Homo sapiens: one gene and its partner. The protein of the gene in region 1 interacts with the protein of each later gene in a biochemical or structural test. Each region holds a gene or a part of one and is shown on either strand. Other genes may lie near its edges.

Region 1 (3,600 bases):
CTCCCGGGTTCACGCCATTCTCCTGCCTCAGCCTCCCAAGTAGCTGGGACTACAGGCGCCTGCCACCACGCCCGGCTAATTTTTTCGTATTTTTAGTAGAGACAGGGTTTCACCGTGTTAGCCAGGATGGTCTCGATCTCCTGACCTCATGATCCGCCTGCCTCGGCCTTCCAAAGTGCTGGGATTACAGGCGTGAGCCACCGCGCCCGGCCCTAATGAGGCTCTTTGGGGCAAGACAAGGTGGTTGAGTATCTGATATGTAAGTCCTGCTTCCTCGTAAGGGTCTGTGCATATAGGAAGTTCTATGGCCAGAAATGGCTTGAAAATTGCCAAACGTGGTTCTCCATAAGAGCCTTTCCAGGAATAGAGTGTTTTGTTTTAAGACTAGGAAAGAGATCTTTTTTCTGTGAATTGGCCAGTGCAGTTATCAGGAAGTAAATTCCATGCCAAATCTTGGAAATGAACCTGCATGAGAGCAAGGGGACACTGGGTCTTGTTCACTGCTTGGCATAGGGTAGGTGCTTTAAATTTTCCGGCCCAGTGGATTTGTTGGATGAACACAGCATAGATCTGGGTCCCTGAAGGGGATCTAAGCTTTTAAGGAACAGATTCCACCTCCCAATCCTGTTTCCTACTCCACGGGTTGCCTAGAAGGAGGGCGGTGGGGTGGAATGGGACTGACTCTGGGCTACTGTGAATACAGGAGGGTGTGGAGGATTGCAAAGTCCCCGGCCGTCATAAAAGGACACAGCCTCATACTTAGATGCTCCACCCCAGGCCCTCGTAGTGGTTTGGACATCTTTGTCCGGTTACCTGGGTGGCACTGGGGGAGCTATCTCACCCTGGGGATGGGCCCAGCCCCAGAGGGTGTTTCCCCGGCCACCTGCGCCCTGGGCTGTGCCCAGTTGGCCCAGCAAGTTGCAGTAGGCGGGGTGGCCCGGGTCCACCTCCCCAAGCTGGAGCCTGTCATGCAGGGAGCCAGAAAGTTGGGGTCGAGAGGACTGGGGAACAGAGCTTTCAGTCCTTCCTGAGGGAGGCCCACTTCATCACTCCCTGTGCCTCTGTCCCAGACCCCCTACTTCTGGGGTTCAGCCACCCTCCCAGGCCCCAATACGTGCCTAATGCCATGGATATTCTTGATAGCATAGCTGATCTCCCTTCGGAGTTCCTTCTCATCAAACTCCATCTGTGTAGAAAAGCAGAGAAAAGCCTGGTCAGGGCCTGTCCTACTACCTGGGAGGTCAAGACAGGGCCCACCCCACACCTAGGGCTGGGCATCAGGGCCTGTGGGGTGGGGGCCAGCAAAAACACACGCAGAGAGAGTCCTGAGTGAGGGTGGGGGGAGTCCTGAGCCATCCTGTCCCCAGGGCTGCCTGACCTACCTTGACCAGCTCGAAAGGGAAGCGCTCGTGGAAGATTCGGTTAATGCGGGCTCCCCCTGACAGTTCGTAGGTGTCGATCTGATCTCCTGAGCCCTCAATGCGCTTCTCAAAGTCTACGGCGAACTGCTGGACCATCCTGGTGGGAGAGTGGTGTGGCCTGAGGGGGCAGGAGCAGCCCAGCAAAGGGAACCCTGGGAGAGCCCCACGCTGAGAGGCTGGGGGCGGGGATTCAGTGATAGGAGCTGGGGGAGCCTCACTGCAGCAGGGCCTTGGTCTTGCGAGCTGGGTCATCAGGGCGGAAGTTCTTGTATTCCTCCACCTCCTTCTCAATGGACAGTAGCTGGCTCTGCAGCTTGTTCCGCAGCCCCGGCAGTGTGTCCCGGATGTGGTTCGTCAGTTGCTGGGGGTAAGGGTGAGGAAAGGGTTGAGGACAGATGGTCACAGGGCCAGGAAGGGACTTGGATGCCAGGGGACTGTGTGAACGTGGTGAGGTGGAGAGCTATGGAGGGCAGCCCTGCCACTGCTGCCCGGGCCACTAGCAAGAAAACTGGTTCATAGAAGGAGCTTGCAGAGATGTATTAGTTGAATTAATGAGTGCATAATTTTCAATAAAGCCAGAAATCTGGATTTGTATTTGGAATTTCCTGATTTTTGGCCAATTTAATCTTTTTATTTTTATTTATTATTATTATTTTTTTGAGACGGAGTTTCACTCGTCACCCAGGCTGGAGTGCAATGGCGTGATCTCAGCTCACTGCAACCTGCGATCTCTGCCTCCCAGTTTCAAGCAATTCTCCTGCCTCAGCCTCCCAAGTAACTGGGACTACAGGCGTGCACCACCATGCCCAGCTAATTTTTTGTATTTTTAGTACAGGTTTTCGCCTTGTTGGCCAGGCTGGTGTCGAACTTTTGGCCTCAAGTGATCCACCCGCCTCAGCCTCCCAAAGTGGTGGGATTACAGGCATGAACCACCATACCATCCCAATTTAATATTTTTAGACGTGCGTCTGAGGCAGGGGTGGCCAGAGGGCTGCCCCTTGGACCCTCTGGGTTTAAAGCCTCCTTTAAGGTCATTCTCAAGTTCTAGCACTCATGCTCACTAGGTGCCCCCACACAGTATCTCCCTGAACCTTTACAACAATCCTATGAAACAGGTCTGATCACCATTGTCTCCATTTTACAGATGCAGAAATAGAGGCTCAGAGGCCAGGCACGATTATGGCTCATGCCTGTTATCCCAGCACTTTGGGAGGCCAAGGCGGGCAGATCACCTGATGTCAGGAGTACGAGACCAGCCTGGCTAACATGGTGAAACCCCGTCTCTACTAAAAATACAAAAATTAGCCAGGCGTGGTGGTGTGTGCCTGTAATCCCAGCTACCTGGGAGGCTGAGGTAGGAGAATCCCTTGAATCCAGGAGGCAGAGGTTGCAGTGAGCTGAGATCGCACCATTGCACTCCAGCCTGGGTGACAAGAGCAAAACTCCATCTAAGAGAGAAAGAAAGAAAGAGAGAAAGAGAGAAAGAGAGAAAGAAAGAGAGAAAGAGAGAAAGAAAGAGAGAAAGAAAGAAAGAGAAAGAAAGGAAGGAAGGAAGGAAGGAAGGGAAAGAAAGAAAGAAAGAGAAAGAAAGAAAGAAGAAAGGAAAGAAAGAAAGAAAAGAAAAGAAAGAAAGAAAGAAAGAAAGAAAGAAAGAAAGAAAGAAAGAAAGAAAACAAATAAAGAAAAAAGAAATAGAGGCTCAGAGAGCCAGAGAGAGTGTCTCAGAGGGGGAGTGACAAAACTGGGATTGGAAACCAGGTCTTGCCTACACAGACAGACAGTCAGACAGACACACACACACACACACACACACACGCGCGCGCGCGCGCACTTCAGTTCTGGATGCCCCATTCCAGATGGAGAAAAGTCCTGGGGAAGCCCCTGGGATTCCCTGTCAAGGTCTTCAGCCGAGTATACTTGAATCCTGGCCCCCAAACCCAAGCTCTTCCCCATGACACCCTCCACATAGGTCTTGGCCTTCTCTGTGTTGGGGACTTCCAGGGCTTCCCTGGCAGGTCCCAGACAGGGAAAGGTCAGTGAAGCTTTGCTGCTACCTAGCTGTGGGGCTGTGGGCAAGTTGCTTTGCTTTTCTGAGGCTCAGTTTGTCTATCTGCACTACGGAGAGGCTAACCTCTGCTGTTCACTCTCAGAACACACTTAATTTATCCTGTTTTCATGC
Region 2 (3,600 bases), on another chromosome or scaffold:
AGGATTAAATAATACCTGCAAAGCACTCAGCGCAACATCATACTTTCAGAAATGTTGGCTATTTTGACTATTATTTCTGTAAATTGGGCACATCTCAATTACAGAGAATCTCTAAAGTAGTTCTGAATCCCATCTCATAGAGTTGCAAAGGGTTTGGTCAATGCAACCTTATTTTTCCCACCTTTTAATTTCTGCAGTAGGCTACTGTAGCAGCCACTAGCACAGGTGGCTATTGAGCACTCCAACTGTGTCTAGTCGGAATTGAGATGCGCTGTTAAGTGGAAAATACACATCAGATTTTGAAGATTTAATTTTGAAGAATTAATTTTTTAATTTAATTTTGAAGATTTAATACGAAGAAAAGAACGTAAAATCTCAATTTTTAAATATTTGTTTAAGCGTTGAAATGATAATGTCTCAGATATACTAGGCTAAATGAAACATATAATTAAAATTAATTTCACGTGTTTCTTTTCACTTTTTAAATGTAGCTACCCCAAAATTAAAATGACATAAGGGACTCGCATTATATTTGTACTGGACAGAGTTCAGGTAAAACCTTTCTACTCATAACGTGGACAGCAGCACCTGGGAGCTTCTTAGAAACGCAGATGTTCGGCCCCGACCCAGACCTATCCCAAGGCGATGCTTACATCTCGCTCCAGATGATTCCGCCGTTTAGCATAATGAAGAGGGCCGATCTGGCTCAAAAGCCACATACAGCGAATAACTACTAACTGCTTTCCGAAAACAGCAAAGTGATGAGGAAGAAAGAAGTGGCTGAGAAGAAGTAACAGAGAAAGAAAAAGACACTCAAATTCTAGGAACAAGAAGCAGAGGAGAAAAACCCAACCTGGGAGATTAAGTGGAAGGGCACTCCCAGACCTCTGCCTCCATAAAAGTAGAGGGAGATGCAAACTGAGATAAGACCTACAATCAAAACCCGTCAAGGTCCAGGAAACTGTCCCTCAAATCTAGTCTTACCCACCCCTCAGCGGCCTCAGCTAAGCTAGGCCTGGGCCCGAACAAGTCCCAGGTTAGGGTTCGACGCGAACCACCATCCTCCCCAGGGCTGCACGGTTCTGTGGGGCATCTCTCCACCTTTCGCTTAAAGGCCCGTTTCCCAAGACACAGGACGCGTTTCCCGGGGCTCACCTGCCTCTGAGCCGCCCCAACGGCCTGCACCTTCACCACCGCCACCTTCCAGTCCTTCGTCAGAGAGCCCGCCCCCTGCTCCCATTGGTCAGGCCGCTCGTCACTCCTGAAGGGCGGGGTCGGACTCGCGAGGCTGTCCAGAACGCCATGGCAACCGGTCTCGGAACTACATCTCCCGTCATGTTCCGCTCGGGGGCGGAGAAAGAGGCGAGGCCCCGCCCCAAGGACTACCAATAAATGGGCGAAGTTGGAATCGCCCGGATGGGTTCCGTTTTATGCAAATTTTAGCCGAAGACCACACCCTTCCTCATTCCAACCATAGGCCCGGCCAACCCCTTTGGGTTGTGCTTCGCCTTTTTCCTTTCCACATTATTCTCTCCTTGAAAACCTCCAATAATTAAGTCAATTAAGTGCATCCTATCTAGTGTCTCTCACGGCAACGAGCAGATGCACCGAAATCGTGCAACAAAATCTCCATAAACCACGATAGGCAACCTCAGACCATAAATCTCCTGTTACGCCTACATGGGGAGGAGGGGGAGAGTGCTAATCCTGCCCCCACACAGCCCCTGCTGATTGGCTCATTCGGCTTGTCACTCTGTTGTCTTACATTTCTTTGGCTCACCCTCTTTGGGTTCGCACGGTGGGCGGGGCCAGTGGTAGGGGGTGGTGAGAAGGTGCGGGCCCCTTCTTCCAATTGGCTGGCGGTTTCCCCACCCACTTATGGGCGGAGATGGATGGTGGATGGGGGGCGGGGGAGGCAGCGGAGGGAGATGAGGAGATAGGCGGGAGCGAGGGAGCGAGGGAGGGAGCGAAGGAGGTAGAGAAGAGTGGAGGCGCCAGGGGAGGGAGCGTAGCTTGGTTGCTCCGTAGTACGGCGGCTCGCGAGGAAGAATCCCGAGCGGGCTCCGGGACGGACAGAGAGGCGGGCGGGGATGGTGTGCGGGGCTGCGGCTCCTGCGTCCCTCCCAGCGGCGCGTGAGCGGCACTGATTTGTCCCTGGGGCGGCAGCGCGGACCCGCCCGGAGATGAGGTGAGGAGAGGGCTGCAAGGCGGCGGCCTGGACCACGGGCGGCTGCAGCGGGGGCGGGGGTCGGCGCGGGGGTCTGCGCGATGGCTGCCCGGGGCATCCGTCCCGCGCCCGGCGCTTGTCTCCCCGGCCGCCCTTAGCCCCTCGCCGCGCGCCCGAGAGACGGCAGCGGCTGCCCCTCTGCCTTGTCCTTCCCGTCCTCGGGGGTGGCGGCGGAGTGGCGGGCGGACCCGCACTGGGAGGCCGGGGGCCGCGGTGGGCCGTGGGGTGGCGGCCGCGGGACGGGCGTGGGGATGAATGGGCGCCGCGGCCCCGCCGCCGAGCGGGCTCCCTCCTCTCGCGGGGACCCCGGGCGGCCGCTCCTTCCCGGGCTGACCTCGCTGCCCTCGGCCGCCGGCGAGGGGCGGCCCGGCCTCGCCTCCCGCCGGCCTCCCGGGGACCCGCGTTGGCGGGAGCGGCGCCGCCTCTGCCTGGAGCCCCGGCTCCTTCCTCGGCCCCTCGCTCGCAAGCCTGCAGAATCCTGGGTCAGTGAAGGGCAGGCAATGCCGTTCGGCCCCAGGGCGCGCCGCGGGGCCGCCCCTGAAGGCATTTAAAGGGGAGCGTCTTCCGCGCCCTGTGAGCGCGTCCCCGGGTCCGCCGCGTCCCTTCCCTTCTTACGCACCGACACGGTTTTGTGGTGTGGACCCAAGACACAATTGCAGTCCCTTGCTTGCACGAATGCAATCCGAATTCCCAAAAAAAGGAAACCGGCGAGGAATCGGCCGCACCTTCCTGCGCTTCTGCTTGCCTTGGGATTAGAAAACAACTTCGGAGATTACATTTCCTATGGGCAATCTTTTGTTGTGATTCAGACTCAAGAAGGCTTTGCTTTGGAAGAAATAGATTAGCGGCTTCTCTGTGGAGTTGGAGGCTATAGAGATTTTTATAGCCTCTTCAATATGAAAGTTTCCTCTAGAACTTTGCCATCATCAGTGCTATTCTGAGGGCAGCAGCAACCTGGAAATTTAGATACATGCAGGCTCCGGCCAGATGCGTTTCTTTGTGCTTGTCTGTTGGCATTCTTCTCTTGCTGCTCCTCTTGATCAAAACGTACAGATAATAAAGGCAAGGCCAATGAAGAGGGTAGATAATAACAGCAAATCCCATACAAACAAATGCCTCTAGAAATTCTCAGTTCTGTCAGCGGGGAGGCAGTTTTGCTAATCCCGTGGAACGGATGAAAAGAAAGGCACAGAGATCTCATGGATTATGTAGTGGACAGGATGTGAGGGCAGGAACTGGGGCCAGGACCCAGCAGGCCAGCTGGTTTGCATGGTGCCACTCTAAACCCCCAAAATATGAATAGGAGGAATGTATTTGTTGGGATACCTTTATTTTTAGATGACTTTAAGGTTGAGAGTGCAGAAGCTTAAACA

What was found. The genes of interacting proteins can lie anywhere in the genome.
Region 2: the proteins of DNM1 (region 1) and ITSN1 form a complex in vitro, tested with the Homo sapiens proteins (2 studies listed by BioGRID and IntAct, with this or other methods).

What each region holds. Positions count from the first base shown.
Region 1 is NC_000009.12:128,220,379-128,223,978, reverse strand, and holds part of DNM1 (dynamin-1), read right to left. Parts: intron 1,783-3,600; coding exon 1,640-1,782; intron 1,519-1,639; coding exon 1,383-1,518; intron 1,187-1,382; coding exon 1,119-1,186; intron 1-1,118. UniProt on the Homo sapiens protein: Catalyzes the hydrolysis of GTP and utilizes this energy to mediate vesicle scission and participates in many forms of endocytosis, such as clathrin-mediated endocytosis or synaptic vesicle endocytosis as well as rapid endocytosis (RE).
Region 2 is NC_000021.9:33,640,526-33,644,125, forward strand, and holds the start of ITSN1 (intersectin-1), read left to right. Parts: upstream 1-1,975; 5' UTR 1,976-2,188; intron 2,189-3,600. UniProt on the Homo sapiens protein: Adapter protein that provides a link between the endocytic membrane traffic and the actin assembly machinery. Acts as a guanine nucleotide exchange factor (GEF) for CDC42, and thereby stimulates actin nucleation mediated by WASL and the ARP2/3 complex.